Linked DNA regions of Homo sapiens. The protein of the gene in region 2 interacts with the protein of the main gene of each other region in a pairwise test. Each region holds a gene or a part of one and is shown on either strand. Other genes may lie near its edges. The genes, in order: FUCA2 and KRTAP5-3.

Region 1 (16,745 bases), on a different chromosome or scaffold from region 2:
AGAACCAACACAAAAAATCTGGAATGATCATAGGATATTTTTCCCTTTGGCCACATTCTGGTAGCTTCATGATTTTCTCCTGTAGATATTTATCCTGCTGAGATGAATGTCTATCAAGTGTATTTGCTTGAGAACATGCTGATTTCCTGATGTCTAGGAACTTTCCCAAGCTGTATGGCACAAAACATTACATAGTGAGTTTATTTAATAAAAATTGTTAATCAAACTGTGAGGAGAGATGATGTAGCCCACATGTATACATTTTCTGGGACCCATGTTGTCAGATGTTTTCATTGCTCATGGAAAATGCATACTAAGCTCAGGAAGGAACGTCGCAGTGTAAGCTTATGGTGGTGATATTCAAATGAAGACTCAAGTGGTTTTAGTACTGTCTGACATTAGGGCCTGTCAAGTTGAGTAACTTTGAGTATGACTTTAGATATCAACACTGCTCTGAAGCTTACCACAGAAATGATAGGAACAAGAGTGAGCTGTTTTAAAAAGCTTATTAAAATGAATCTAAGGCTAGGTGCAGTGGCTCACATCTATAATTCCAACACTTTGGGAGGCCAAGGAAGGAGGATTGCTTGAGGCCAGGAGTTTGAGACTGGCCTAGGCAGCAAAGTGAGACCCTGTCTCTGAAAAAATAGACAAAATTAGCTGGGCGTGGTGGAGTACACACCTGTAGTCCTAGCTACTTGGTAGGCTGAGGTGGGAGCATCACTTGAGCCCAGGAGGTCGAGGATGCAGTGAGCGAAGTTCGCACCACTGAACTCCAGCCTGGGTGACAGAGCCAGAACCTGTCTCAAAAAAAAAAAAAAAAAAAAAAAAATCGAAAGTATGAGTCATTCTTAGACTTGTTCTAATTTACCAAGAGTAAAATGTTTCACCAAATGTACCTTATAAATGTCTATTCTCAAAGATTCTTTTAGATTTTAGTGGAATAGTAACAATGTATTTAAGTCTCTAGGCACTGATGAAATTTTTGAGGCTTTCATATTTATTATGTTTTAAGTATTTCAGTTTATATATCTCTTCTAACATTTTTATATGGAACAATCAGTAATCTAAATACAAATTCCTCTTAAAAACGAACCACTTCTAAGTGTTTGTATAAAGGTATACATTGTTTTTCTTATCTATGTAGTTGGTAGACTATTCACTTTTGGGTAATTTTATTAAAGAGGAACATCCAAGCTTATGATTTTATAGTAGGATGAGATTACACGTGGTGAGTATATTTTAAAGTATAGAACTATTGGGAATAGTAGGGGTTTTTTTTTGCCCCTCTGGTTAAATAAATAATCAGGCTAAAAGAGATTTGCTATACGTGGATCACCAGTGTTCTAAGAATCACACTATAATAAAATAAACAATCCTAAAACTAAGCAGTAGACTTCAAGCTTTGGTTTAGAAGACACTAAGAATCTTGCAGGAGTGCATCTCAGGATCTTCATAATAAATAGTGGTAGTCATCATTTAGCATGGTACATGTATATGTTCCCATCTTAGTTGTGAGCTGCTATTGTTGATTGTTTATACCTTGTGCTAGCAGTTGGCTGGAGACATAGCAGGGAGCACTGCAGACATGATGCAATCCCTTAAGGACCTTAAAATCTAAGAGGGAAAATACTGGAGATAGATCAGACCGTACAGTGATATACCCTGAAAGTTGCTTTTAAAAACCTGTCTCACCTTGTTTAAATTCTCACTTCTCATATAAAAGCACAATATATGCTATGAAAAAATGGCCATAAAACAGTCATTTGTAGGAGCAGGTATTTATATATCGCATGTACTATGTGATTTGTTTGGGCATTTGTGTGGGTTGAAATTTACTAAAATAAAGTTGACATGCTTACAAGGGTTTTCACTATAATTTTCTAGGCTTTACCTTGTGGGGGTCAGAATATTCGTGGAACTGGAATGCCATAGATGAGGGGCCCAAGAGGGACATTGTCAAGGAACTTGAGGTAGCCATTAGGAACAGAACTGACCTGCGTTTTGGACTGTACTATTCCCTTTTTGAATGGTTTCATCCGCTCTTCCTTGAGGATGAATCCAGTTCATTCCATAAGCGGCAATTTCCAGTTTCTAAGACATTGCCAGAGCTCTATGAGTTAGTGAACAACTATCAGCCTGAGGTTCTGTGGTCGGATGGTGACGGAGGAGCACCGGATCAATACTGGAACAGCACAGGCTTCTTGGCCTGGTTATATAATGAAAGGTGTGTATGCTATGAGATTGCTGCAGTTACCCTCCATATTCCTAATATATTTCTAACATTTTAATTCCTTCACCTCTTGAAATATTTCATTTTAAGTCATTGGTGGTATGGGGGGAGAAAATCATTGTAAATAATACTTATTAGATATATCACTATTTACTCAACATAATCAAGGGTAAATAAATCAGGAGTAAAATCCAACTCAATGGTCTGATTTTGAGATCAGACTAAAAATCACAGGATCAAGAACTTTGAAGGTGTTAATTTTGTGGGTCCCCCCTTTTTCTCTCCTACCCTGGTCCTTTATGGCCTCTATTCTGGGACAACTCTGTTTCTTCATCACTATTTCTGACTATTTGCTTCTGAATCCCGCAGACTGCTTCTTTTTATCCTCTTACCTTTTGGTCATCTTTGCTGCCCAGCCAATGTCACCCTTGTTTGTCTCCTCTTTTCCTTCATCGCAGCCTTTTCACTTTCTCCAGTTTTTTCCTATTGCTTCCTGGTATGTTCAAGGCTGCCCTATTAGAACAGGGAGTTCTGATTAAACTCCTCCATTAGGCTTAAACTATATGGACCAAATTTGCATGTACACTAGAAAGCACTGGGTATTGTGCTACGAAGTCAGGCAACCTTCTGCTTGCACTTCCTGGGCCCACAAAGGGCACAAATACAAATATTCTGAAGAACTCTTGATACTTAAAACAGCAGTGTGTCCAGGTACTCCTTCCAAGGGAAAAAACTGGGAGCCATCACTTCAATTTGTGACTCAAAACTGTTCCCTCTATGTGGCGTGTATTTCCCTCTTAAATATGCCACCTGCTATGATAAGCAATATTGTGGGGATATTTCACATGATATCAACAGTCAAATTTTCTGAGATTTTTCAATATTAGGCACAATGGTAAGAGAAAAAGAAAGGCTAGACTACATGTATGAGATCATTGAATCATTGAAAAGAAAAGTGTCTTGGGTATAAATTCAGTTTTGGCTACCATTTACAATATGGAAGGGAGCTTAAAATATTCATATAATACTCTTATGAGTGCTATATGTGCTGGGTACCAGGCTAATGTTTTACATAACTTATTTTTGTTCTAATCATAGATGAGGAAATTCATTATTCAGAGGAGTCAGGTAATTTGCTCTAGGTCTGGGAGCTAGAAAGTGACAAAGCCAGAACTCCAATCAACTCAGGTCTGTTTGACTTCAAAACCATGGGCTTTCCACTGTACTATGCCATGGTCCCTTTTCAGAATTGTATTTCAATTACATGTCTTTTCAGTGACATTTCTTTTTGTATAAAAAGCTTATACCTTTTGTTTTAAAAAATTGTATGTTTCATTTCAGCCCAGTTCGGGGCACAGTAGTCACCAATGATCGTTGGGGAGCTGGTAGCATCTGTAAGCATGGTGGCTTCTATACCTGCAGTGATCGTTATAACCCAGGACATCTTTTGCCACATAAATGGGAAAACTGCATGACAATAGACAAACTGTCCTGGGGCTATAGGAGGGAAGCTGGAATCTCTGACTATCTTACAATTGAAGAATTGGTGAAGGTACAGTGAAATGTCTGGTGGCTATTAACATAATATTCTTAATAGTGTGGTCATGTAGGAATTATTTCTTCTATGGCTCAATGGCCTATAAATATAGGACATTGTTCTATCCTGTGTTTGTTCTTCTAGGCAGTGACTATATATACATGTATAAATATATAAATGCAACATATTAGCACATTAAAGATGGAATTATTTTATTTATCTAAAAACATTATTCTTAATTTTTTAGCAACTTGTAGAGACAGTTTCATGTGGAGGAAATCTTTTGATGAATATTGGGCCCACACTAGATGGCACCATTTCTGTAGTTTTTGAGGAGCGACTGAGGCAAATGGGGTCCTGGCTAAAAGTCAATGGAGAAGCTATTTATGAAACCCATACCTGGCGATCCCAGAATGACACTGTCACCCCAGATGTGTGGTAAGTCATTCTTGTTACCAAGTACTCTTTTATAAAGGAAGAGATTTAAAATTTATCAGACATATAAAGAAGAGTAGGATAAAAAGAGAAATTGGATGAATTCCTACATATACAAAGCACTTTCCAAACTTTGCTTACTCTAATATAAAGAGAAGGGGAAGAATTTGCATGTTTTGAAACATTTATTGTTTATCAGATTGAGCTTACATCATTTCTAGGTATCTCCCAGTAGTGGACAAATTTTGGCTGAAAGTACTCAGCTCTTAGAAAAATTGTAAGCTGTTCAGACCAATGAAAAATGCTGAATGGTTAGTCTAAAACGGAGATTACTGTTTAACCAGTTCGGTAAATTCTGACTTTTGCAGATGTTGCATCCCATGAAATTAGCAAACAAGAGGTACCCAATGGCAGAGAAAATGTTAGATTAAAAATGAATCAAAATAGGGAGGGTTCAGGGAAGATGCTTCTCTCTGAGCTTGAGGAGGTTCTGTGTGTCAATGAGTACCCGAATCAGACTCCACAAATATGACAGTTTCTGATATGGTTTCTTAACATATATAAAATAAGATGAGTATTGGTGAAGTTCTAAAAATTCGCTTTCAGTTGCCACCTGAGTACTGTCTGATCAAATAGGAACCGAAAGATTAGACTAATTGTTCTTCAATCTACTTGACTTATGACTTAAAACATTAACAACCCATTGAATAAAATGGAGTAAGGCAATCTGGACAGAGCAAATAATTGTGGAATTTTAAAATGTTGATCTGGGAGAAGCCATAATGAGAACTCAATACCAATCTCTCATGTGACAGAGAATAGTAGAAATCTGGTTTTGGAATTTGCTTCTTACTTTTGAATACTTACATTTGAATATGAGGGTATCTGATCTGGGACTTCACAATCATTAACCATTATTCTATTGTGTTTATTTCAAGAAATAAACATAAAAGCTAAATATTTAATGTGGCTTATAAAACTGTGAGTCTGGCTCCTACCAACTTCCCTGCCACTGAGTGGTCCTGCTCTCCCTCCTCACCATAGGAGCCTTCTTCCCCCAGGGTTCATCATGCCCACCTTCTTGCAGTCACCTACAGACTCCCAGGTCAACCCTTAAAATCCTTTGAGAGAGCCCTGGCTTGCTGTCCCTGTCCCCAGAACTACTCTTCACATAATTCTTAGAGATTTAAATTTTTATTCACAGTTCTAATTACCTGCACCTCCTGTCTTCTAGGGGTCTTGTCCGCTTGACCTTTGTTACCTGTTCCTTTGCATTATCAATATACAAGGTCATATTGGTAATGCAAAGTCGAACTTCTTACTCAACACTTCCACTTGGATGCATAGCATCTTAGACCTGTACGTCCACAACTGAAGCCCTGAGTTTTAAATTTTTGCTGTAGACTAGCTCCACCCACGGTCTTCTCCATCTCAGTTAATGGCAGCTTTATCCTTTAGGTGGTTGTCAGGCCAAAAACCTTGGTGTCCTTAACTTCCCTTTCTTTTATAAACATACTTTAGACTTTGCATTACCAATAACTGAACCCCTTCCACGGCTCCAGTTTGAAGGATTCTGCCATCTACCTACCACTTCTTATATTTTGGCTCACTCTGCATGGCACTTCGGCTTCCAAAGGGATCTATAATCCAGTGATCATACTATCTTTTAATCCTATCATCTTTTCTCTGTCTTTTTCCTTATCCGGGACAGATTCTGTGGCCCATCACTGTAACTAATCTATTGCATACACCCAACTCCTGAACCCTTGCTCCCTCTGCCATACTCACTTGACGGAACATCAACTTTAAATACAGATCTACTTATTCCATGCCTGCTTCTGGACAGCTAACTGTTAACTATGGAAACACACACACACACACACGCACCCAGACACATACAATGTAAAATTATCTCACTTTTGGCTTTAAGGTCAACCCTTGTGTCCTGATCCCATTGCAAATCATCCACCCAAGGATTGTTATAGCAATTCTCCCCTTTAACTCAATTTCACTTGCATTTCTAGTGATCTTCCCATTTCTCTCCTTTCCTTTGTAGTAAAACGTCTTGAAAGGATTGTTTTCACTTGCTATCTCTAATTCCTTGCTACAGTTTTTCTCTTGAACCCCCTCTGGTCGAGCTTCCACCCCCACACTCCAGAATTGCTCTTCTCAAGGCCCACAATAACATCTGCCTTGCCAGTTCCAGTGATGAGTCCCCAGTGCTCATTTTCTTAACTTACTGGCAGTGTCTGCCTCAGTTTATCACTGTCTCTCCTGGTGTTTGTCGTACCTTTTGGCTCTTCCTTCTTAGTTAGTTCCTTTGCTGATTTCATCTCATTTTTCCAACCTCTAAATCTTGAAGTGCCCTGAGGTTTAGTCTTTGGACTTCCATTCTTCTCTATCTTTTTTTGAGTGCACTGGTGCGATCTTGGCTCACGGCAACCTCCACCTCCCAGGTTCAAGTGATTCTCCTGCCTCAGCCTCCTGAGTAGCTGGGATTACAGGTGTCCGCCACCAAGCCTGGCTAATTTTTTTGTATTTTTAGTAGAGATGGGGTTTCACCATGTTTGGCCAGGCTGGTCTCGAACTCCTGACCTCAGGTGACCCGCTTGCCTTGGCCTCCCAAAGTGCTGGGATTACAGGCGTGAGCCACTGCGTTTATCTTAATGTCCCAGGTGATCTTATCCATTTTCATGGCTTTAAATGCCATATTGATGATCTCCACATTTCTATTTCCAGTGCAGACCTCTTTCCGAACTCCAGCCTCAATAACTTCCTACTCAGCATTTCCACTTAGATGCATAGCATCTTAGACCTGTACATCCAAAACTGAAATCCTGAGTTTTAAAATTTTGCTATCAACTAGCTCCACCCATGGTCTTTCCCATCTCAGTTAACGGCAGCTTCATCCTTTAGGTGGTTGTCAAGCCCAAAACCTTGAAGCCCTTAGTTTCCCCTTCTTTTATAGTCACAGCCAACCCATTAGCAGATATCATCCTCTGCATCTTTGAAATATATTCAGAATCTGTCCACTTCTTATCCTCTCTGTGGCAACCCTCATCCTTTTAGTTTCCATTGTCTCGCCCCTGCCTGGATTATTTCAGTAGCTTCTTAATAGGTCTCTATTTCTACCCTTTAACCTATTCACCACAAAGCAATCAGAGTATACTTTTAAATAATAATGCCACTCCCATGGTCACATTTCTCCAATGGCTTCCAGTCTCAGAGAGAAGGCCAGGTCCCATAGATGCTTACAAGGGCCTATAAAATCTGGCTCCTATCGCCTCTCTGATCTTATCTGCCATCACCCTCCCCCACTTCCTCTCCTTCAGGCACTCTGCCTTGCTAGTGCATCAACAGGCAGAGCACACTCTTGCACTGGGGCTCCTGCACTTGTCATTCTGTCTGGAAGGTTTTCCCCAGACGCTCCCGTGGTGCTCTTATGGCGCTCCCATGGTTCTCTTCCATGCCACCTCTAAGAAGTCTTCCCTGACTATTCTGTTTAAAATAACACTCCCAGGCCCCTCCTTTCCTACCTAGCATGCCCTGTCCTTCTAACCTGGCTTGTTTTCTCCATAGCATTTAATCAACACCTGACATATTTGTTGATTCTAATTTCTTCCACTAGAATGTAAGCCCCATGAGGACAAGGACTTTGTTCAATGTTGTATATAGCTCTAAAACAGTGTCTAGCATTTTAAGATTTCAATAAGTATTTCTTGAGTAATTGAATGAATAAATGAATGAAATCCACTTTTTTTTTTGTCCACAGCATACTTCCCTTACCTTCTTCTTTGCTCCCATTCATCCTTTAAGTCTCAGATTAAATGTTATGTTCCTGGAGAGGCTTCTTTCTGATGTTCTAATCTAAAGAGATCCTTTTGTTATAATCTCTCAATTTCCTTTTCTTTCATGGTGCTTATCAGAACTCACACTTTCATATTATTTGTGTGATTGTTTAGTGTCTGCTTTCCCCACTCTAGTCTAAGCTCCATAAGAACAAGGACTATGTGTGTTTTGTTTTTTATTGTAACTCTAACACTGAGCACAGTACTAGGCACAGAATTGACACATGCATATCTTGTCTTGTTGAATGAATGAATGAATATAAAAATTTGAATAATACATGAAAAGCCATGAAGCTCTTGCATCCTGTCCCCTTAGATCATCTCCCTCCCCTTTTCAGCTCCATGAGAGCAGTCTGATGAAGAGGAATGCTAGCTCAGGAAAATCTTTGTCTTCCAAGAACTTCCTTTTGGTCTTGGGGGAGGAAGGTGTTTTTTTATACCACCATGAGGCTATTTTTCCTTCCCTTCTATTAGTGGTGACATTGTGGAAGTATCTGTAAAATAATTCCAGATTGTTCCTGATCCATAAATAGTGAGAAACATGGGATGTAACTTGCTACTATGCTCTTTATTTTTTTCTTTTAACCAGGTACACATCCAAGCCTAAAGAAAAATTAGTCTATGCCATTTTTCTTAAATGGCCCACATCAGGACAGCTGTTCCTTGGCCATCCCAAAGCTATTCTGGGGGCAACAGAGGTAAGAGGGAATTTTACCTTATTCCTTTAAATTGCTGATTAGAACATCTTGATGCAAACATTAACTTTTAAGGGGAGCCTTATAACTGTTTCACTTATACTTCATAAAAGGAATTGTAAATGAGCTCCAGCCAAGCATTGTGGCTCACACTGTAATTCCAGCACTTTGGGAGGCTAAGGCAGGAGGATGTCTTGAGGCCAGAAGTTTGAGACTAGCCTGGGCAACATAGCAAGACCCCTGTCTACAAAAATTTTTTTTAAAGTTAGCTGAGCATGGTGGCACGCACCTGTAGTCCTAGTTACTCAGGAGGCTGAGGCAGGAGGATTGCTTGAGCCCAGTAGGTCAAGACTACAGTAAGCTATGACTGCACCACTTCAGCCTGTCTCTGAAAAAATAAAATAAAATATAATAAAATAAAATGAATTTCACCAATGACAGTGTTTGGTCAAAATCTTTGAAACTTTTTGTTTCCCAGAAAACTAAGCTGATAAAACAGCTGCAGTATCTCTATGCATATCACTGTAAAATAGACATTATTCTTCACAGTCATTTTACGTTGTTCAAGTTCACTGCATGCATCCAAAATGATTCTTCTCATAAAACTAGAATTCGGATGCTTTCCCTGACACCCCACCCCAGAACATATCTGAATACAAGATGTCATGACTCTACTATTTTATGTTTATAAAACATTTTGGAGAAAGTTAGAGATTAATCTAACTGTTGAAACCACCAGATCTGGCATTGAGTTCATTCTGATATATTTTATAACTTATTTTTTTAAATAAATTATCCCTTTGGAGGTGAACTGTCCATATGGGGGTTCTCCTTGCATCACTTTTCTGCATTTCATTTCTAATACATGTGGTTGATGAGGCAGAAAGAAGATGAGTTCAAATCTAATGTTTAATTACAGCTTAGTAGCCCAGGTATGATACTGATTATGTTTTTATTTTATCTATGTTCTTTTTGGTGCCAATTAACATTATTATTTAAAAGCTCATGGGCTTTGTTTTCATATTGATCCACCTGAGAAGCAAAGTTTTTGGTTCAAAATAACCCTAGAATATGTAGGGAACTTATTTGAATTTGCTTAGTATAGTAAGACTAAGAATATAAAACAATTACAGTAATAATTGATCAAATTTATGTATTATTGATTAGTGGAGGTTATTAGAAAATCTGGGGGAGGAACGCTGAGTAGATACTTGGGCAGACTCTGGTTTCAGAGCCACTTTCTGCTCCTGATCCTCTCTTTAGCTTTTTCTCCACTCTGAGACTCCATTCAGTCTTGAAAATTCTCCTTCCCCAACCCCTGCACACTTCTATTTCCCTCTTGAGAGTAAAATAGAAGCAAGAATATAGAGGCAAGATACATACACTCAATTGGATGAAGAGTGATTGTGAATCACTAAATAAAGGTAAAAATGAACCTCTTGTCTACAATTTTGTTTGAACTACTAATCACTCCTTCCCAATAGAAAGTGGGTGAGATAAAGAGATAAATTTGGAGACATTTGCATGTATGTTTTTAATTTCAGGTGAAACTACTGGGCCATGGACAGCCACTTAACTGGATTTCTTTGGAGCAAAATGGCATTATGGTAGAACTGCCACAGCTAACCATTCATCAGATGCCGTGTAAATGGGGCTGGGCTCTAGCCCTGACTAATGTGATCTAAAGTGCAGCAGAGTGGCTGATGCTGCAAGTTATGTCTAAGGCTAGGAACTATCAGGTGTCTATAATTGTAGCACATGGAGAAAGCAAATGTAAAACTGGATAAGAAAATTATTTTGGCAGTTCAGCCCTTTCCCTTTTTCCCACTAAATTTTTTCTTAAATTACCCATGTAACCATTTTAACTCTCCAGTGCACTTTGCCATTAAAGTCTCTTCACATTGATTTGTTTCCATGTGTGACTCAGAGGTGAGAATTTTTTCACATTATAGTAGCAAGGAATTGGTGGTATTATGGACCGAACTGAAAATTTTATGTTGAAGCCATATCCCCCATGATTATATAGTTATGCATCACTTAATATGGGGATATTTTCTGGGAAATGCATTGCTAGTCAATTTTTTTTTGTGCCAACATCATAGAGTGTATTTACAAAATCCTAGATGGCATAGCCTACTACACACCTAATGTGTATGGTATAGACTGTTGCTCCTAGGCTACAGACATATACAGCATGTTACTGAATACTGTAGGCAATAGTAACAGTGGTATTTGTATATCGAAACATATGGAAACATAGAGAAGGTACAGTAAAAATACTGTAAAATAAATGGTGCACCTGTATAGGGCACTTACCACGAATGGAGCTTACAGGACTGGAAGTTGCTCTGGGTGAGTCAGTGAGTGAATGTGAAGGCCTAGGACATTATTGAACACTGCCAGACTTTATAAATACTGTATGCTTAGGCTACACTACATTTATAAAAAAAAGTTTTTCTTTCTTCAATTATAAATTAACATAAGTGTACTGTAACTTTACAAACGTTTTAATTTTTAAAACCTTTTTGGCTCTTTTGTAATAACACTTAGCTTAAAACATAAACTCATTGTGCAAATGTACAAAAATATTTTCTTTCTTCATATTCTTATTCTATAAGCTTTTTTCTATTTTTAAAATTTTTAACTTTTTACTTTTACAGAAACACACACATTAGCCTAGGCCTACACGGGGTCAGGATCATCAATGTCACTGTCTTCCATCTCCACATCTTGTCCTGCTTAGAAGGTTTTCAGGGGCAATAATACCCACGGAGCTGTCATCTCCTGTAACAATGCCTTCTTCTCACAGACCTCCTGAAGGGCCTGCCTTATGCTGTTTCACAGTTAACTTTTTTTTAAGTAGAAGTACACTCTAAAATAATGACAAAACATATAGCACAGTAATGCATAAACCAGTAACCTAGCCATTTATTAAGTACTATATACCTTACATCATTTTATGTGCTAGATTTTTATATGACTGGCAGCACAGGTTTGTTTATACCAGCATCACCATAAACAACATGATTATCGTGTTGTGCTACCTTATGATGGCTATGATGTCACTAGGTGATAGGAATTTTTAGCTCCATTATAATCGTATGGCACCACCAACATATATGCAGTCCATTATTGACTGAAAAGCTGTTATGTGGTACATGGCTATATTTCGAAACAGGGCCTTTAAAGAGGTAACTAAGGTTAAGTGAGGTCATAAGGGTGGGGCCCTAAAGCCAATAGGATTGATGTCCTTATAAGAAGGGGAAGACACACCAGGGATACAAGTGCACAGAGGAAAGGCCATATAAAGACAGTGAGAAGGTGCCATCTGCAAGTCAAGGAGAGAAGTCTTTGAAGAAACCAAATCTGCTGATACCTTGATCTTGGATTTTCAGCCTCCAACACTGTGAGAAAATAAATTTCTGTTGTTTAACCTGAGTAGGGGTTGTGTTTTCTATTCCCATTTGCTGCAAGGTATGTTTACCAAAGGCTGTTTGAGTTTGTGACTGTAGTGGGTCAAATAGTGTTCCCCAGTAATTTATGTCCACCTGCAACCTCAGAATGTATTCTCACTTGGAAATCATGTCTTTGCAGATGTAATAGGTAAGTATTGAGATAAGCTGATATTGGATATGAGTAGGTTCTAAATCCAATGACAGTATCCTTATAAATGACAGAAAAGGACACAGAGACAGAAGGCCATGTGACGACTAGGCAGAGATTGGAGAGGGAGCATGGCCCTGCTGACGCCTTGATTTTGGATTTCTAGCCACCGGAAGTGTGAGAGAATAAATTTCTCATTTTAAGCCACTTGTGGAGTGGTAATTTGTTACAACTGCTCTAGGAAACAAATACAGTTACCAAACAAACTGATTATGCCAGGTGAACTTTTTATGATGATAATATGAGCCAAGGACGCAAGCGTGAAGAGTTCTAGTTTCTGTTAAAGCCAAGTTAAATACTTTGGAAAGACTAGATAAAAGTTTGTTGACTTTAAAAATTTAAAAAAAAAAAAAAGCTATTGGTTAACTGTGGGCAAAACTGCTCTAAAAGATTGGGGGAAAATATAGTAAAAATCTTCAAGAATTCTGCATCTGTGGTTCACACCTATGTAATGTAATGCATGTAATTTGTATAAGAAAGATAATTAGATTACAAGCTCCAGCTTGTAATCCCAGCTACTTGAGAGGCTGAGGTGGGAGGATCCTTGAGGCCAGGAATTCAAGAAAGACAATTAGAGAACATCTATCAGCAGACCTATATGGGAAGGCAGCTATGCTGTACCACTATATCACCAACAGCCCGACTGAGTAGATGTACACTAAAAAGTTAGAAAAAACCTGGATCCTATAGTAAATAAGTGGTAAATATAGAATATTTAAAGTTAAAATGTCTATATATGTACTTTTTATGACACCCTGATTTAAATAACTTTTTAGATTAACCAAACAACTAAAGGTTTCTGATGAGAGGGCTCCTGCTATACTATTAGAAGGCAGATTTGTACTATCTAAGAACAATTAACTTTATTTTTGTATTTATTCATTTTTTTGAGACAGAGTCTCACTCTGTCGCCCAGGCTGGAGTGCAGTGGCATGATCTCAGCTCACTGCAACCTCCGCCTCCCAGGTTCAAGCGATTCTCCGGCCTCGGCCTCCCAAGTAGCTTTAAATACATGTGGTTTTTACCTTGTCATCTCTTCCACTGCCACAGTTATACAGACGCATATGATTCCAGGAGATAATTTTCAGCTGATCAAATTTGTATCCTTACAAGGCTACACCTGTTTAGTCTCAAATTTTCCCTGGATGAAATCCTGGGTTAATTTTGTTGGAAGAGATGTGTGCCCATTACACACTCATTCCCAAATTTACCAAAATGCTATTTTTCATTTGCCCCATTAAAAGTGAGAATATCATATTTTGTCAAATTTTGAAAAGAAGCATATTCCCTCCTCTCCACCACTACTTTTTTTTTTTTTTCCCAGACAGGGTCTCACTCTGTCACCCAGGCTAGAGTGCAGTGGTGCAATCATAGCTCACTGCATGCAGCCTTGACTTACTCGGCTCAAGTGATTCTCTCACCTCATCCCTACAAGTAGCTGGGACTACGGACACATGCCACCATGCGTGGCTAATTTTTTTGTAGAGACAAGATTTCACCATGTTGCCCAGGCTGGACCATTACCTTTTTTTTTTTTTTTTTTAAAGTTAATTACAGCATTTGAGGAAGAGGATCTAATTCCACACAAAATGGAAGACTCTAAAATGTACCCATTAAACTGCTAAAAAATAAATTGAGTGGTGAGAATACCACATAAGCCCAGTTTAGATTCTGAGTGCTGTCACCCTGTGATTACAATTATACAGACTCTTCCAAGCTTATAGCTAGAGCTCCTGGAAGCTATTTTATACACTGATGCAAGGACAAAAAAACCACAACTCAGGAAGGAATTAAGTCCTGAATTATTGGCTTCATCACATCCACCCTCTCCACCCCAAAACAGCACAAAAGAAACAGTGACCACACCCTGTAGATCTTTTTGTGTAAAAGAGGTAATGAAGACCTGGGATGGGAACAAGTCATGAAGATCTGTCTTTAAAAGGTCCCTTTCAGGTAAATTTGTACACACCATCAAGCAACAAGCCTCTCATCAGTTAGGGTTAGGAAACCAAGGTTCAATTCTCAGGAAATCACAATTTCATTCATTTACTCAATATGAATTTACAAGGTGCCTATATATTATCAGCTTCCACTTGCAGCCATTTCTAGATAAAAAAGAAACCTGGCATCTCTACAGGGGCCACCAAGTTCCCCAAATCTACCACTGAAGGGACCTTTTTGGAACTGGGTTTCTTCTGTACCCCTGAAAGGGTAACACCTTAAAGCTGAATCATCTTTAACCTGGAGGTCCAATATGACATTTAGCAATACTTGCATCCCAGCCATACAACATTAAAAGATACACTAAATTGTGAAGGTATCTATGCTGCAAAATAATTTAAACAATTCTACAGCATTCATTTATGCTTGAAATTCCAGTCCTAGACCAAGCTTGTGGCCACTAGCATAGATGTTCTTGCCACCCAGGAGAGCTGACAGTGTCAGTATGAAACCTGGCTTTAGGGTTTAAGTGTATCCTAAACCTATCAGGCTGGAGTTGTTCACTTTAGTGGAGAAGTGGGCTTTAGGATCGATCTGATACTTGGCTGCTATTCTGAAGCGAGTGTTCCTGTTTCTTGCTGTCCCAGCGAGACTGACAGCAGTCTCCAACTTCTTGCTCACCTTCTGCTAATTGGAGCTGCCAAACTCTGTCCCGTCATTCACATTAGTGTGAAGCTGGAATTCATCAGTCTTGTGGCCAACCGCAAAGTTGCTCTGGGTCACTCAGGACTTTGTGGTCTCAAAATTGACCTGGTAGCTGGCCAGCCAATCCTCATAACCCAGCACTTAAGAGTGCCTCGGACTGAAGGCTCAGCAATGTCCAAATCCACGTCGCAGCCCAGGTTAATGTGCTCCCACTTGTATCCTGTCTTGATTTTAGCACTTTTCCCCCAGTGTTAGGCGAGAAGGATGAATGGAGGGTCAGCTTCAGTCCACATGCTAACTGGTCTTCCATAGTAATCTCGGTGCCTAGTGTGTTGTCAGTGTTCCATTTCTTTGCAAATGTCAGGCCATATTCGGTCTATCTGTACTTGGTTTCCAGACTGCCTGTCACTTTGGTGGTCTCAGTGTTGGCTGAGCCTGAGCTTGTAAATTCCAATCCATTCTCAGATTTTGTTTTCAAATCAGGTTTTATTAAGCCAAATCCATATCCCTTGGTGAAGACATGCTTGGCAGATTTGCCAAGATTAGCATATGTGAGTGGCACAGCCATCTTCTGCTCAGAGACAATGCCAGTGGGCTCAGAGGTGTCTATGGTGAGGGCTATGGCTCCACTACCTATTTTTAAAAACATTCTAGACACAAACTCCCTGGCAGTGAGCTTCAGGCCTAGCCAGGCCTTAGAAGAGATGTCATAATTTATTTTCTACCTTCTACTGTTCAGCTACATGTTACGCTGGAGGAACATAAAACAATGTTACTGAAAATATATGTCAACATACTAATGATATATAATGATTTATTTACTTTTGCCCTAATTACCCTTCTAAATGAAGAATTACAGATGTATTACTAGAGATAATGAATTATTTCTTTTTCAGAAAGTAAAGCTATTTGCTTTTTACTAAATGAACAAGTTAACAACAACAAAAAAGCACCAAGTACACGACCAATTAAAATGAAACTTAAACTAGCATGCTCTCTCTTCCGAAATAATAACAAAAATGCTATGGGATAAGTAAATTAATAGCTGAAAAATATTAACTCAACAAAATAATATTTTACTAAAATAGTTTATTGCAATAAGATTTTCACTGTATTCAAAATCAATACAAAGTAAGTTTTTAAAATTATGTACAAATGATTAAAACTATGTAATTAGGTGAGTAAACAGCATCAACACAATTTTAGCCTCTAAACCAATATGTAACTTTCTAAGGCTTTTTAATAAAACCTTAAAAAATATAGTGAAGAAATAGCAAAGAACATAGTTCATCATAGTTGTTGGAATTCACTATTTCCATAAGAATAAAAAAGTCCTCCATCAAGGTATATTTGAGACAAATAATTTATTATTTTGAAAGGTAGCTGGAGAAAAGTCTGATTCACTTCTGTTTACAGCAGTCTAGGGAACATTATAATTAAATAGCATATTTTTCCAAACTTCACACATCCTAGACCTATGTCTCCAACAGATTTTTCCTCAGTATTAATATGGTAAAGTACACTGAATTTTGTATTTTTATATATATATATGTATATAAAATATCTATATTGATTTTTAGTCAGTTTGGAACAAATGTCCATGTGTAACAAATTATTAACAATTCTGATATTTGCACGTGTATATATATATGCCCACAAAAACTGGTCTGTTGATGAATCTAAAAAAA
Region 2 (15,988 bases):
AACATAGAATAGAACAGTAGTTACCAGGGTCTGGAGGAAGAAGGAAAGGGGGAGGAGGAGGTCAAGGGCTTGCGGTTGTGTAGGAGAGGGAGCCGAGCAGTCCAGTGCACAGTGCAAGGACTACAGGTGACAGTCAGGTGTTGTGTGTGGCAGGTGTGCTGAGAGAAGACTCCAGGTGCTCCTACCACACACACATACACACACACTAACATCGTACACACATACTTACCCTCATACACACACATACACACACACACTCACCCTCATACACATACATACATACACACAGTCTCACACACAATTAAAAACACACCTTACACACACTCATACACACATAATCATACAAACACACACACTCATACACATGCATACACACTCATACACACACTTATCCAAACACACCCATGCACACACACTTATACACACACATACAAAAAGGAACCATGGAAGGTGTTGGAGATATTAATTGCAGCCATCATTTCAGTAGTGTACATGTTTACCACAGCACCATGTTGTCCACCATGAATATGTACAATAAAAATAAATGTAAAAAAAGATGTGTCTTGGGAGAGTCCTTCATAATAACACCTGAGAGGTGTCACCTTTCTTGACTTTTTCTGACCATGAAATGCACCTGCCAAGGATGGCAGACGTAGGGAACTGACCTCCTGGGCCCTCACGTGCCCAATTATCTTTGGCCCTCCGGACTGGAGCAGTTTGTAGACCTTGGAAGCAGGGCCCCAGCACTGACTGCTTGGCCTCAGGCCTCTGCCCCATCGGTGGTCAGGTGGCGGCCACGAGGGCGTGGGAGCTTGGCCATCCCTGCCTCCTGGAGTGGACGAGGTTGGCGGCTGGTCAGCCTGCTCCTGCCCCACCCTTGCCTCATGGACCCTGGTAGCATCACTGGCTCAGCCTTGCTGGGCATGCACAGGCAGCAGCACCCGCTCTGATCCAGGAGGCTTGCCCTGCTTTTGGCTAAGTTCTGGGTCCGGCCACTGCCACAGAAGGCTCAGTCCCCTGTGTGATCCTCCTGGCTGCTGCTGGGTGCCCATGGCGCCCCTGATGCCCTTCCCTTGACAGGGCTTGGGTTAGCATCAGGCCAGGACCCTCTGGGACTGGGACTTGTGCCCTGTCTGGGGTCCCTGTCCCACAGGTTGGGCCAGAGGCCACAGGGCATGCTGCTGGCTGGCCATGGCTGCAGGAACGTGACACTCACCCTTCCCTCTGGCAGCCTCCAAGTGATGAGTTTTCCAGTGGATATTAATTTCCTGAGGCCAGGAGCCATCTGGGGCTACAGGGCAGCCTGCCGTGTGCCATCCTGGCCCCTTCCACACCATGCTGGCCACTGCCTGTCATGGGGGTCGGAAGCAGGCGATCCCGTGCAGGAGGTGTCTCTGGACCTGCCTCTTCTCTTGCTCATCACAAGGCCAGGCCAAGCCTGGTGTCAGGACCCTGGTGGGGTTGCAGGGCCAGGCCTGTCCCCTGTGCCTGGGGTGTCCAGGGCACACATAGAGGAAATAGGGGCCCTGCATCCCGGCTCCTCAATGTACTGTAGAAATCATGGGCCCTCAACATTCAGGTCCGTGGGAGGCATCCACAGAGACTTCCAATGAAGGAACTGTTAGACAACTCCTGGTCTCTCCTGAGCTGGGGACAGGCCAGCCACACCCTGAGCCCCTGGGGACCCCCAGAGAGTGGCCTACTGTCTTGGGCTCTGAGGAAGTGCTCTCATTGTAGAGCACGGGGGATGTTGTGGCCCACTCCTCTCAATTTTGCTGTGAACCTAAAACTGCTCTGAAAAAAAAGTCCATTAAAGGAACTAGCATGGGCTGATGGGGAGGGGCTCATTCACCCCTGAGTTGGACACCGTGTGGCTACGAATCCACCCTCAGACCACAGAGTGGATTTCGGCAGCAACACCACACCCTAGCCTCATCCTGAGCTCAAATTTAACTCAGATAGACCAGGCCCTTTTTCTATCGTTCTTAGCCACCATTAAACCAGGTCACTCGTTCTGTGTTTTTGCAATTGGCTTTTAAACAAAAGAGCTGGGTTTGGTGTATGTTTCCTTGTCAAATATTTTTTTCCAATAACACAGGTGGAAGAAAACAGACAGGGCCTCTTTCTGGTCCAGCCATGGGGTGGAGGCCGTTTTTGACTTTCACCTTCCTCTGTGGGTCCAGCTCTCTCTTGCTTGTTGGCTCTGAGGATTATTTAGTTTTTCAACAGCTCAGTGACTTAAAAAAAATATATATGCTTTAAACATAGCACTTTAAAGCTTTATTTATTTACTTACTTATGTATTTATTTATTTATTTATTTAGAGAAAGAGTCTAGCTCTGTCGCCCAGGCTGGAATGCAGTGGTGCGATCTAGGCTCGCTGCAACCTCCGCCTCCTGGGTTCAAGCAATTCTCTTTCGTCAGCCTCCCAAGTAGCTGGGATACAGGCGCCCACCACCATGCCTGGCTAATTTTTGTATTTTTAGTGGAGACGGGGTTTCACCATGTCCTTTTAGAAGTTTCAGGGTTGTGAATAGTGTCTAGTCAACCTTACTACCGAAACAGAAACTCAGAAGCAATTTCTGAAACTTCCGTGTTGTTGAGTTTTCACTTTCTTGTCGCAGTTCCGCCAGGCACTCACTGCCTACCATCCTGTGAGACGGTGGCTTCCCGAGCAGCCTCCAGCGCTCTGCTGTTACAGACGCCTGGGTCTGGGGGCTCCAGCCTTGCAGCCCACCTCCTCCTCCGCCAGCTCCTGCCTTCCCTCCCCATGAGTCGAACATGCTGGACTTTGGTCTAGGCCCTCCAGCCTCCGGAACTGGGAGAAATGGTGTCTGTTGTTCCGTCTTCCAGGCTTACTCTGTGGGTTTTGTTCTGGCAGCCCCAGCTGACAGAGGCAGCAGGGAAGGGACAGGTGGGCACCTGAATCAGAAGTCTGTGTAGGGAGGTGTCACAAGGAGGCAGGAAATAGATGTCTGTAGGAAGCCTTCCAGGAGATGCTGAGGGATTTGGCGACTTGTGGGGGAGAGAAGCCCAAGGGGCCTCCCAATTCTGTATCCTGGAAGATGGGAAAGACGGAGACGCCCCAAGCCAAGTGGATGCCACGGCTGAGTTGTGCCCCCTGGTTCATATGTTGGAGTCCTCAACGCAGTATCTCAGAATGGCACCTTATTTGAAGATAGGTCTTTACAGGGGTGATTAGTTCAAACATGGACCTAATGGAGTAGGGTGGGCCCTAGTCTAATCTGTGTCCTTATGCAAAGAGATGAGGACGCAGACACACACAGAGGGATGAGTACGTGAGGATATAGGGATGGCGGCATCAGTAAGCCACGGAGGGAGGCCTCAGGAGGACCCGGCCCTGAGGCACCTCGATGGCGGATTCCGGACTCCAGACTGTGAGACAATCCACTCCTGTTGCTTAAGCCACACGGTTTGTGGAGCAGCCCTAGCAAACTCACACAGCAGGGTACGGGGGGTTCCCAAATGCCTGGGAGTGCAACTCTGTGGAAAGTGTACATTTCTCTAATCACACAGAAGTTGAAACAAAAGAATCACAATGCAAACTCGTGGGAGGTGCAGATCGTATTTATTTAGAAGATCTAGCCTAGGCACTTACAAGGCGAAGCCCTGGGGAAAGAAACAGGGCCAGGTCGGAGGTAGAAGAGGAGACTGGGCGCCCCTCCTCCTCAGGAGAGGATCCTGGGGTCTCCAATAATTCCGAGTCCTCTAGGTCAACTCCAAAAGCAATCGGAGCGGTGGCAGCTCAGGCAGGATGAAGACGAAGCGGGGAGGAGCCAGGAGGTTGCGGGGACCGGGGAGAGGCGGCAGCAGGTCGGAGGATTCCAGTGTCAGCGTGTTTCCAGCAGGCTCACAGGAGGGGCCCAGGGATGTGGGATCTTGAAGCCCTGAGAAGGTTGAAGTGGTGGGGTCAGGAAAGGAAGACGGGATTCCGGGAGGGTTGATGGGCAGGACCCAGCATGCCAGAAGCCCTCATGACCTCAGAGGCTGAGCGGCTGAGTACTGAGCCCTGGACGCTAGGCTGCCTTAGTCCAGAGGAGGACAGATTCAGAGACGTGCTTCAGGAATTCAGGACACAGCTGCAATCATTCCTGGAGAGCCCGGATCTGTAGGACCCACTGAGGTTTGTGGGCAGAGCCTCAGATCTTGCACTGGCAGCAAATTGGGACACAGCAGCTGGACTGGGAGGAGCAGGGCTTGCAGCAGCTGGACTGGCAGCAGGATGACCCACAGCCTGAGGAGCAGCAGCAGGGCTTACAGCAGCTGGACTGGGAACAGCAGGGTTTGCAGCAGCTGGACTGGCAGCAGGATGACCCACAGCCTGAGGAGCAGCAGCAGGGCTTACAGCAGCTGGACTGGGAACAGCAGGGCTTACAGCAGCTGGACTGGGAGCAGCTGGGCTTGCAGCAGCTGGACTGGCAGCAGGATGACCCACAGCCTGAGGAGCAGCAGCAGGGCTTATAGCAGCTGCACTGGGAGCAGCCACAAGAACCGCAGCCCCCCTTGGAGCCCCCACGAAATCCACAGACCCCCTTGGAACCCCCACAGGAGCCACAGCTGGAGGAGCAGCAGACGGGCACACAGCAGCTGGAGCCACAGCCCCCCTTGGAGCCTCCACAGGAGCCACAGCCCCCCTTGCAGCCCCCACAAGAGCCACAGACCCCCTTGGAGCCCCCACAGGAGCCACAGCTGGAGCAGGAACAGGCTGGCACACAGCAGCACACGGGCTTGCAGCAGCAGACAGGTACACAGCAGCCGGAGCCACAGCCCCCATAGCCGGAGCCACAGCCCCCACAGCTGGAGCCACAGCCCCCACAGCTGGAGCCACAGCCTCCAGAGCAGCCAGAGCAGCCCATGGTTCTGGTGGGTTGAGGGTGGAGCAGGTAGAGGAGCAGGTGAGAGGGAGGTGTGCAGGTGTGGAGTTCTCTGAGCCCGGGCTCTTTATATTCCTGCCCAGGTGTTTATACTGAACACGTGAATACTTCTGTTGTTGTTTCTGCTATTTCACATGCACAAGTGTTATTTTTAATCTCTCCACAATCCCATGAGCCACCATCAGCTCAAGCCAAGCTGTCCTTTCCTTGGTTTCTAAATTTGGCCTCTTCCTCATAGGTGTTTCCCTTTGTTAGAAGACACTGGGCTCCCTCTCCAGTGGGTGTCCCAGGAGCCTGGGAGGCGGTGGTTGCTTGGCCGAAGGGTGGACCATTGTCCTTGGTGCTCAGGGCTCTCCTCAGCGATGCAGACCCTCCACCCCCTGGCATTGGTGTTTATATCAAGGATGGTCATTTGGTAAAAAATAAAATAAAATAAAAATTAAAAAAATAAGCTGAAAGAAAGGCTGTCTATAGGTTCCACCGCTTAAAAACTTCAAGTATAAATATTTTGTCAAATCTGTAAAACAAAGTTTTGAAGAGCATGGATTTGAGTGTGGCCCTGGTTCTCCTTTGTCTTTCTTACCTCTTCCTCCTGCGGTTTGGCTCACTCCTCCAGACACGGATTAGACCCACGTTCCCTTCAGGCAAGCTGGGCTCACAGAGGGAACAGAGGAACAGGACCCTTTCTAATGCTTTTGAGTTTTCCTCTATTAATTCTTTGTAAAAATTCTACAAATCAATGGATATTCTTCAAGTTTATTCTTCTTGAAGGCTACAAAAATTTTGATTAGCCAACCTCTCTAACACACTTTTATTTTCTAAAAGATTAATTTTAATATTTTTTTTTTGAGAAGGAGTATCGCTCTTGTCACCAGGGCTAAAGTGCAGTGACGCAATCTCGGCTCACTGCAATCTCTGCCTCCTGGGTTCAAGCAATTTTCCTGCCTCAGCCTCCCCAGTAGCTGGAATTACAGGCGCCCACCACCAGGCCTGGCTAATTTTTTTGTATTTTTAGTGAAGACAGAGTTTCACCATGTTGGGCAGGCTGGTTTCGAACTCCTGACCTCAGGTGAACCACCCGCCTCAGTCTCCCAAAGTGCTGGGATTACAGGTGTGAGCCACTGCACCCAGCCAAATTTTAATTTTTTATTAAGGTAAAATTTACATGCAGTGAAAAAAAATTTTTTTTCTGAGTCTCCCTCTGTCACCCAGGCTGGAGTGCAGTGATGCAATTTCAGCTCACTACAACCTCTGCCTCCCGAGTTCAAGCAATTCTCCTGCCTCAGCCTCCCAAGTAGCTGGGATTACAGGCACCCACCACCACACCCAGCTAATTTTGTATTTTTAGTAGAGACGGGGTTTCACTATGTTCGCCAGGCTGGTCTCGAACCCCTGACCTCAGGTGATCCACCTGCCTTGGCCTCCCAAAGTGTTGGGATTACAGGCATGAGCCACCAGGCTTGGGCTGCATTTTTTTTTTTTTTTTTTTGAGACGGGGTCGCATTCTGTCGCCCGGGCTGGAGGGCAGTGGTGTGATCCTAGCTCACTGCAGCCTTGGTCTCCTGGGCTCTGCACATATTTTGAGTGTACAATTCCATGAGTTCCGCTAAACATGTACTCGTGTGCCCATCACTCCAACCATGACCAACTGCTTCACCCCCAGAAGTTTCCCTTTCGCCGCCTTCCCTTCCTGCCCATCGCTCCAGGCACAGCTCTGCTGACCAGTTGTGCCTGTTGTTGAATGTTGCAAAAATGAAATCATTAAAAATGTACTCTGGTTTCTTTCCCTCACGATGTTATTCTGTGTGTCAATGATTTGCTCTTCTTCTTTTTTTTTTTTTTTTTTTTTTTTTGAGACAGGGTCTTGCTCTGTCACCCAGGCTGGAGTGCAGAGTGGTGCGCTCATGGCTCACTGCAGCCTCGACCTCCTGGGCTCAAGCGATCCACCTGCCCCAGCCTCCCAATGTGCTGGGATTACAGGCATGAGCCACCACGCCTGGCCTTCTTCTTCTTTTGTAATCACCGCATAGTGTTTCTGTAGCAGGGCGAGCCGCAGACAAGAACCCCTCAGACACTGAATTGTAGAAGGAAAGGGCTTTATTCAGCTGGGAGCATTGGCAGACTCAGGTCTCCAAAAACCAAGCTCCCCAAGTGAGCAATTCCTGTCCCTTTTAAGGGCTTACAACTCTAAGGGGGTCTGTGTGAGAGGGTCGTGATCGATTGAGCAAGCAGGGGGTACGTGACTGGGGGCTGCATGCACCGGCAATCAGAACGGAACAGGACAGGACAGGGATTTTCACAATGCTTTTCCATACAATGTCTGGAATCTATAGATAATATAACCGATTAGGTCAGGGGTCAATCTTTAACTACCAGGCCCAGGGTGTGGCACCGGGCTGTCTGCCTGTGGATTTAGTTTTTACTTCTTTTTTCTTTGGAGACAGAAATTGGGCATAAGAAAATATGAGGGGTGGGGCCCCCCTTATTCCATGTAAAAATATTCTCCACTGCGTTCCCCCGTTCTCACGTTCATACATATTTGAATCGTTCACAGTTTGGGGCGATGATGAATAACACATAATCATGCCTTCCAGTCCTTCCGTATTCATGTTTTTAGTTTTAATTTTTTGGTCAAATATTGAGGACTGGCCTTGCTAGACCATAGAGTAGTGTATGCTTAACTTGCTAAGAAACAGACAGCTTTCCAAATGCTCATGCTGCTTTCCCCCTCCCCAGCAATGCCTGAGAGTGTCCGCTGCCCCAGGCCTGTCAGTACCAGCCAGCGGCTTTTCAAATGTGAGGCATCGGATGGGTGTAAAATCGCATCTCGTGTGCATTTTGACCTGTGTTTCTCTGATGACTAATGTTCGCAAGGATTCTTTCTTGCACTTATTGGACATTTGCACATCTTTCTTGTTAAAAAGTTTTGCTAAAATTGTTTGCCCATTTTATTGTGATTTTTTTTTGTCTTTTTGTTATTGAGTTGTTGGAACTCTTCATAAATTCTATATCAAGAATGAATATGTGAAGTGCTTTGCCATATGTACGTATATATATTTACATATATATTTCATATACATGTGTATATGTGTGTATATAATATATATATGTAGAATATATATATTGTATATAATTTTCTAGTATTTGACTTGCCTTATTGTTATCTGAACTTTTTATATGGAAATGTTTTTGATTTTGAAGTCCACGTTAACATTTGTTTTGACAGCTAGTGCTTTCTTGTGACCTCTTTGAAAACCCTTTTTCCTAGCATTTCCTTTAGAAGCATTAGAGTTTTAGTTTCTATATTTAGTTCTATGATGGATCTCAAGCTAATTTTTGCGTGTAATGTGAGGTAGGAGTTGAGATCCATTTTTTCACATTTTCATCCAATTGTTTCAGCAGCATTTGATAAAAAGACCTTCCTGGCCAGGCGCAGTGGCTCACGCCTGGAATCCCAGCACTTTGGGAGGCCAAGGAGGGCAGATCACCTGAGGTCAGGAGTGCAAGACCAGCCTGGCCAACATGGCAAAACCCTGTCTCTACCAAAAATACAAAAATTAGCCAGACATGGTGGGGGGCGCCTGTAATCCCAGCTACTCAGGGGACTGAGGCAGGAGAATCGCTTTAACCCGGGAGGTAGAGGCTGCGGTGAGCCGAGACTGCAGCACTGCGCTCCAGCCTGGGTGACAGAGTGAGACTCTGTCTCGATATAAACAAACAAACAAACAAACAAACCGTGCTTATCCCACTGAAATCACTGGTGTTTTTAATGAGAATCAGCCGACACGATGGCGAGTTTCTTCCTGTGTCCCGCTCCGCAGGTCTGTATGCCGCTTCCTAATGCAAACACAGCGTCACTGTGACATTATGGGAGGTTTTGAAGTTAAGTATTGTGAGACTCCAACTTCATTCTTCTTTTTAAAGATTGTTTTGTTTGTTTCCAATTCCTTTACTTCTCCAGCTAAATTTTAGAACCAACTTGATCATCTCAAATACCAAAAAACCCGTTGCTGTTGCAATAGACAGCTGAGGCACGGGAAAGACCCTGGAGAGAGCCCCTGTGCCATGTGGGCAATTGGAGAAGGCTGAAGGCTGAAGCTGGAGTTCTAAGACTGGGAAATGCCTGCTCACTCCAGCCCCCACCCCCATCACCAGACTATGGAGCCCGTGGGAACAAAGGTAACTGCACCCACCAAGTCTTTGTCTTTCCTCTTTTCTTTTCTTTCTTTCTTTTTTTTTTTTTTTTGAGACGGAGTCTCGCTCTGTCACCCAGGCTGGATGCAGTGGCCCGATCTCGGCTCACTGCAAGCTCCGCCTCCCGGGTTCACGCCATTCTCCTGCCTCAGCCTCTCTGAGTAGCTGGGACTATAGGCGCCCGCCACCACGCCCTGCTAATTTTTTTTTTTTTTTTTTTGTATTTTTAGTAGAGACGGGGTTTCACCGTGGTCTCGATCTCCTGACCTCGTGATCTGCCCGCCTCGGCCTCCCAAAGTGCTGGGATTACAAGTGTGAGCCACTGCGCCCGACCTGTCTTTCCTCTTTTATAAAATGCCTGCTGATGTCTATGAGTTGGTTCCTCTGTTTAGTTGTTTTCTTTGCTTGCTAATTGGTGTGAGCTCTTTGGGTTTTCAAATGCTGAGCCACGGTCAGCTTTATTTTATTTTATTTTATTTTATTTTATTTTATTATTATTATACTTTAAGTTTTAGGGTACATGTGCACAACGGGCAGGTTTGTTACATATGTATCCATGTGCCATGTTGGTGTGCTGCTCCCATTACTCGTCATTTACTCAGCAAACTATCGTGTGGTCAGCTTTTATGTTGCAAGATCCTCCTTGGTTCATCTTTTCATTCTCGCGAGGCCTTCCCTTGTTAAATGAGAATCCTTGAGTGTTTAATTTTAACTTATCAATTCACCCACCTCTTCCTTTAGAATTAGAGTATTTGGGGCCTTATTTAGGAAATACTTCTCTGAGATCATGATATATTTTTCTGTAAAAGTTGAAAACTTTTGTCATCTGTTTTAAAATCTTGAATCAGGTATATGTGATGGTTAATTTTATGTGTCAATTTGGCTGGATCCCAGGGTGCCCGGATATTTGGCTGAATGTTATTTCTTGGTGGTCGGTGAGGGCAGTTTCTGGATGAGACCAGCATTGGGATCAGTGGACTCAGGAAAGCAGACGCCCTCCCCAATGTGGGTGGCTTCCTCTGATCCACTGAGGGCCCGAATAGATCAAAACGTGGAGGAAGTCCCTTTCTGCCTGACCGCTCCAGCTGGCACATCGGTCTCCTGCCCTCGGACTTACACTCACACCGTCAGCTCCCTGGTTCTCGGGCCTTTGGACTTGAACAGAATGACCCCGCCGGCTTTCCTAGGTCTTCAGCTTACAGACAGCAGATCATGGAGCTGCTCAGCCTCCAGAATCGCATGGGCCAATTCTTCATAATCATCTGTGTATCTGTGTATCTCTCTCTGTGTGTATGTATGTATGTATGTATCTATCTATCTATCTATCTATGTAACTATGTAGCTATGTATCTATTTATCTATGCATGTATCTATCATCTATGTATCTATATATGTATCTATCCATCTATGTATCTATCTTTGTATCTATGTATCCATGTATCTATCTGTGTATCTATGTAAGTATGTATCTATCTATGTAGCTATCTAACTATGTATCTGTCTATGTAGCTATCTATCTACCTATCATCTATTTATTTATGTATGTATCTACCTATGTATGTATCTATGTGTCTATGTATCTATCTATCATCTATGTATCTCTATATATATCCATCTATGTATCTATATGTCTATTATCTATCTTTGTATCTATCTATCCATTTATGTATCTATTATCTATGTATGTATGCATCTATCTATCTATCTAATCTACCTATGTACCTAATCTCCCACTGGTTCTGTGTCTCTGGAGAACCCTGATTAATGCAGTATAGATTTTTGTGTATTCGTGTGGAAACTGCCTTTCTCGGCATGTTTTCTTTTCCAGCCCCTCGGTCACCCAGTGTCAGTCAGGATGGCCTGGGTTGTGCTGCAGCAACAAACCACACCAAGATCTCAGTAGCTGAGTCAACCCACACCTCCCACCACCACAAGACACCTGGGGCTCTGCCTCTTATTCCATAACCCAGGCAGCCAGTTGCTGTGACAGAGGAAAAGAAAAATATACTATTCATAATAGAATTCAGCAGTATATTAAAAAGAATTTTGGCTTACAGGCATGGTGGCTCATGCCTGTAATCTCAACACTGTAAGAGGCCAAGGCGGGAGGATCACTTGAGTCCAGGATTTTGAGACCAGTCTAGGCAACTTAGGGAGACCCCATCTCTACAAAAAAAAAAAAAAAAAAGGCATACTGATGTGCACCTGTGGTCCCAGCTACTTGGGAGGCTGAGTTGGGAGGATCACTTGAGCCTGGAAGATCAAGGGGACGGTGAGCCATTATTGCACCACTGCACTCCAGCCTGGGCAACAAAGTGAGAACCTGTCTAAAAATAATAGTAAATAAATAATAAATAAAATAACTTTGCACCCTAACCAAAATATTTACAAACCACATATCTGACAAAGGACTGGAATATACAAATCTAGACCATGTAAAGAACTCTCAAAACACAACAGCAAATCATACATAAACACAAAAACAATCCGATCCAAAAATGGGCAAAAGACTTGAAGAGACAATTCTCTGAAGAGGACGTACAGTGGCAAATAAGGATGTGAGAGGAAGTTTGACATCCTCAGACTTTAGGAAAGACAAACTAACCAGTAATGCGATATCATGATGCCCCTATGAGAATGGCTTAACAAAAAAATAGCAGCGACACCAAATGCTGGCAAAAGGCAGAGAAGCTGGGCCACTCGTATGTTGATGGTGGGAATGCAAAATGGTACAGCCACTCTGGAAGATAGGTTGGCAGCTTATGAAAAAAACTAACCACACAACCGCCATTCAACACAGCAATCTCACTCCTGGGCATTTATCCCAGAGACATGTGCACACGGAAAACCTGTCCACAAATGTTAATAGGAGGCTTATTCATGATCACCAAATGCTGGAGACACCCACATGTCCCTTGATGGGTGAAGGGGAAACACACTGGTTCACCTCTGCCAGGGGACACGTCTCAGCCATGAAATGGCAGGAATGACAGACGCTCGATGACCCAGATGAATCTCCAGAGAATCATGCTGGGTAGGAAAAGCCAGTCTTAAAAGGTTACACACTGTGTGTTTCCATTCATGGAGCATTCTCGAAATGACAAAATTACAGAAATGGAGAACAGGAGGGAAATGTGGGGGCTGCATCAGGGCAACGCGTGGGGTCCTTGCTAGAGAAATGATCTGTATTGTGACCGTGCCAAGGTCAATATCACTGTGTTGTTATGTTACCTGCATTCCAGATGCTGTCACCGGGGACATGGGAAAGGGTACATGAGATCCCCTTTGTGTCTTCTTACGAGTAACTTCTTACGAGTAACTTCTTATGAGTAACTGCAGGTGAATCTACAATCACCCGAATATAAAAAGTTAAATTGAAAAAAGAGTGCATACCTCACAGATACTCAGGGAGTCATGTTTATAAAGTGTGTGGGAGAGTAGCTGGAATGCACGAGGTGCTGTCAATATCGGGTGGTGGCAGTGAAGGCGGTCATTGGATAAATCACCAATTAGGCAATTGGCGAATCAGATTCCAAATACTTTTCCAAGGTAGAACCTTGGAGATTTGCTGTTGGATTGGATGTGGAGGGTGGAAGAGGAGTCAAGAGGATGCCCAGGCTTCTATCCTGAGCCCTGGGAAGGATGGAGCTGCTGTGAACTACAATGGGGAAGGCTGGGAAGGCGTTGGTTCCAGGGGAAGGAGGAGGAGTTCAGTCTGGGATGTGCTTAGTTTGAAAGGCCAGATGTCCATGAGAAGCAGGCACCTGGGCCTGTGAGTGTGGAACCTAGAGGGGAAGGTGTTGTGAGAGACATGGAGGAGGTCGCAGGTGAGATAGAGACCCCCCGGCTGAACCTGGCACCGCCCAGTGCTCAGGGCCTGGAGGAGGAGAATTAAGCAATGGAGACTGAGGTGGAGTGGCTGGTGGCACAGAAAGGAAGCCAGGGCTCTGCACTGGGCTGGCTCTGTCCCTACATAGATAGATAGATAGATAGATAGATAGGTACATAGATACATAGATACACACATGGATACATACATGGATACATAGATACGTAGCTAGCTAGCTAGATACAGACATACATACATACACACATACATACATAGATGGATACATAGATACATAGATAGATACATACATACATAGATGGATACATAGATAGGTACTTACATACATACATAGATGGATATAGAGATACGTAGATGATCGATAGATACGTAAATAGATACATAGATACATACGTACATGCATACATAGATGGATACATAGATACATAGATAGGTACTTACATACTTACATAGATGGATACAGAGATACCTAGATGATCGATAGATACATAGATAAATAGATACATAGATAGATACATAGATGATTCTGAAGAATTGGACCCTGCAATTATGGAAGTTGAGCAACTCCACAATCTGCTGTCTGTAAGCTGAAGGTGTCCCCTGCTTGTTTCCAGACTGAGTCTGGTTCCCCGATCACTCTGACCAGAGATTCATGCTAAGATGCTCCCTCGGTGACCACTCCACAACCAGCCAACATCTCTAGGCTCCATACAGGGTCTCCCTGTGCTCATTGTAAATCATCAGGCCTTCAAAATATTCACTAGTGGCAGTGGTGCATGCCTGTAGTACCAGCTACTCGAGAGACTGAGGCAGGAGGATCCCTTGAGCCCAGGAGTTCGAGACCAGCCTGGGCAACACAGTGAGACTCTATCTCTATTAAAAACAAGAAGAGGAAGGTAAAAAAGAAAATAATCACAAACAAGTAAACAAGCTGACAATGTCATTTATTTATTTATTTTTTATTTATTTGAGACAGGGTCTCACTCTGTCACCCAGGCTGGAGTGTAGCAGTGCAATCATAACTCACTGTAGCCTCAACCTCCCAGGCTCAAGAGATTCTTCCACCTTAGCCTCCCCATTAGCTGGGACTGCAGGTGTGCACCACCATGCCCAGCTAATTCTTTCATTTTTCTGCAGAGACGGGGTCTTGCTATGTCACCCAGGTTGGTCTTGAACTCCTGAGCTAAAGTGTTCCTTCTTCCTTAACCTCCCAAAGTACTGGGATTACAGGAGTGAGCCAAGCCCAAGCTGACTACTTCTTTTTTTTTTGAGACAGAGTCTTGCTCTGTCACCCAGGCTGGAGTGCAGTGGCACCATCTCGGCTCACTGCAAGCTCCGCCTCCTGGGTTAACACCATTCTCCTGCCTCAGCCTCCCGAGTAGCTGGGACTACAGGCGCCCACCACCACATCTGGCTAATTTTTTCTTTTTTTGTATTTTTAGCACAGATGGGGCCAAGCTGACCACTTCCAAAAGTGTTCTCCACTCAAGCAGCTCGTTTACTTAACAATATCACTTATTCCCACACACCCCCTCCCAAATGTCTTTCATGTCTTTGCAGAACCAGCTCTCTTAAATACATTTTCCACAGTCATATTTACGATGCAGATTTTAAGTAAAATTGCAATGCTTGCAAGAAAAGAAACGTAGGATTCTGTGATGTCACTGAAAGTGACATTGGAGAACATCTGCTGGGAGCCAGGCAAGGCCACCACGGTGAAGATCAGGCGGTTCACCCTGAAAGAGAAGCTGGTCAAGGAGGCAAGATAGAGGCTTCCCAATGGGGTGAGTTGACCTCAAAGAGAGGCGTCCGTGAAGGATGAGAAGGAGCTCAGTTGTTTTTGCTACGCGACTCCCTTCAGCGTCATTCTGTCACGGCCAACTGTGAAATGAAGGATGTTGCAGCAGGCAATCCTATGATTTTATCAAAAAATTATGCATAAAATGTCCAACACGTGATTTTCTCTTTGTTGATTTCATGGAGAGTTACAACTATGTCTTAAATCTTGCTAACAATCATGTGACATCTGTTCATTATTAAGGAAGGTTTTGGGTTTCTTTCTCTTTCTCTTCTACCCCCACACCACAAGCACAGACAGCATTGGTTCTGTTGGGCCTGTTTCCAACGAATGGCTGGCGGCAGGCTCTTCTCTGGTGCCCATTACCGTGGTAGTGAGGCCATCTTTGATCTGCAGGTCACTGGGTCCTGCCTGGGCCAAACACCTCCCCCTCTTCCCTGCAGAAACCTCTTCATCACACAGCAGGACATGAATTTACCCACAGGAGCCACAGGCCAAGCAAAGAGAACGCCAAGTGAGCCATGGGGGGAGAAGTTTCCGGCGTCTTCTTCCGGACCCACTGACCCCACAGCAGCCCCTCCTGCCCCACTGGCCAGGCTGGAGGCAGCTACCAACTCCCTACCTCAGTGTGGTCTGTTCTCATGGAACCTCATCAAAGTGTACCCTTAAAAAGGGTTCCTTTTAGCCGAGCACGGTGGCTCATGCCTGTAATCCCAGGACTTTGGGAGGCTGAGGCAGGCGGATCATGAGGTCAGAAGATCGAGACCATCCTGGCTAACACGGTGAAACCTCATCTCTACTAAAAATACAGAAAAAAAAAATTAGCCAGTCGTGGTGGTGGGCGCCTGTAGTCCCAGCTACTTGGGAGGCTGAGGTAGGAGAATGGTGTGAACCTGGGAGGCAGAGCTTGCAGTGAGCCGAGATCGTGCCACTACACTCCAGCCTGGGCAACAGAGTGAGACTCCGTCTCAAATAAAAAAAAGAAAAAAAAAAAATTCCTTTCATTTGAGCTTCAATTGTTCTTTGCTGCTCAAAAGCCTTCTAAGTCTTACCATTTACCAGGCAGAACTGAGAACTCTGTAGCTCCCCAGGTTTCTCCAGGCTTTCTAGAACTTTCCTCCTGGCTGGCAAATCAGCCGGTTCTTTCGAGCTCACCCTGTTCTTGTAATGCTTTGATAAATGCAGCCACAACGACCCACGTGGGAGTGGCATTGTGTTTTCTGAACTCTTCCCTCAGGGATACACGATCTGGGA

The links.
Region 1: the proteins of KRTAP5-3 (region 2) and FUCA2 interact in binary tests that used the Homo sapiens proteins (3 or more experiments, as listed by UniProt).

What each region holds. Positions count from the first base shown.
Region 1 is NC_000006.12:143,489,395-143,506,139, reverse strand, and holds the end of FUCA2 (plasma alpha-L-fucosidase precursor), read left to right. Parts: exon of another isoform or gene 1-170; intron 171-682; exon of another isoform or gene 683-724; intron 725-1,887; coding exon 1,888-2,227; intron 2,228-3,574; coding exon 3,575-3,785; intron 3,786-4,017; coding exon 4,018-4,208; intron 4,209-8,642; coding exon 8,643-8,751; intron 8,752-10,292; coding exon 10,293-10,433; 3' UTR 10,434-11,328; downstream 11,329-16,745. UniProt on the Homo sapiens protein: Alpha-L-fucosidase is responsible for hydrolyzing the alpha-1,6-linked fucose joined to the reducing-end N-acetylglucosamine of the carbohydrate moieties of glycoproteins.
Region 2 is NC_000011.10:1,603,509-1,619,496, forward strand, and holds KRTAP5-3 (keratin-associated protein 5-3), read right to left. Parts: upstream 4,956-15,988; 5' UTR 4,878-4,955; coding exon 4,161-4,877; 3' UTR 4,057-4,160; downstream 1-4,056. UniProt on the Homo sapiens protein: In the hair cortex, hair keratin intermediate filaments are embedded in an interfilamentous matrix, consisting of hair keratin-associated protein (KRTAP), which are essential for the formation of a rigid and resistant hair shaft through their extensive disulfide bond cross-linking with abundant cysteine residues of hair keratins.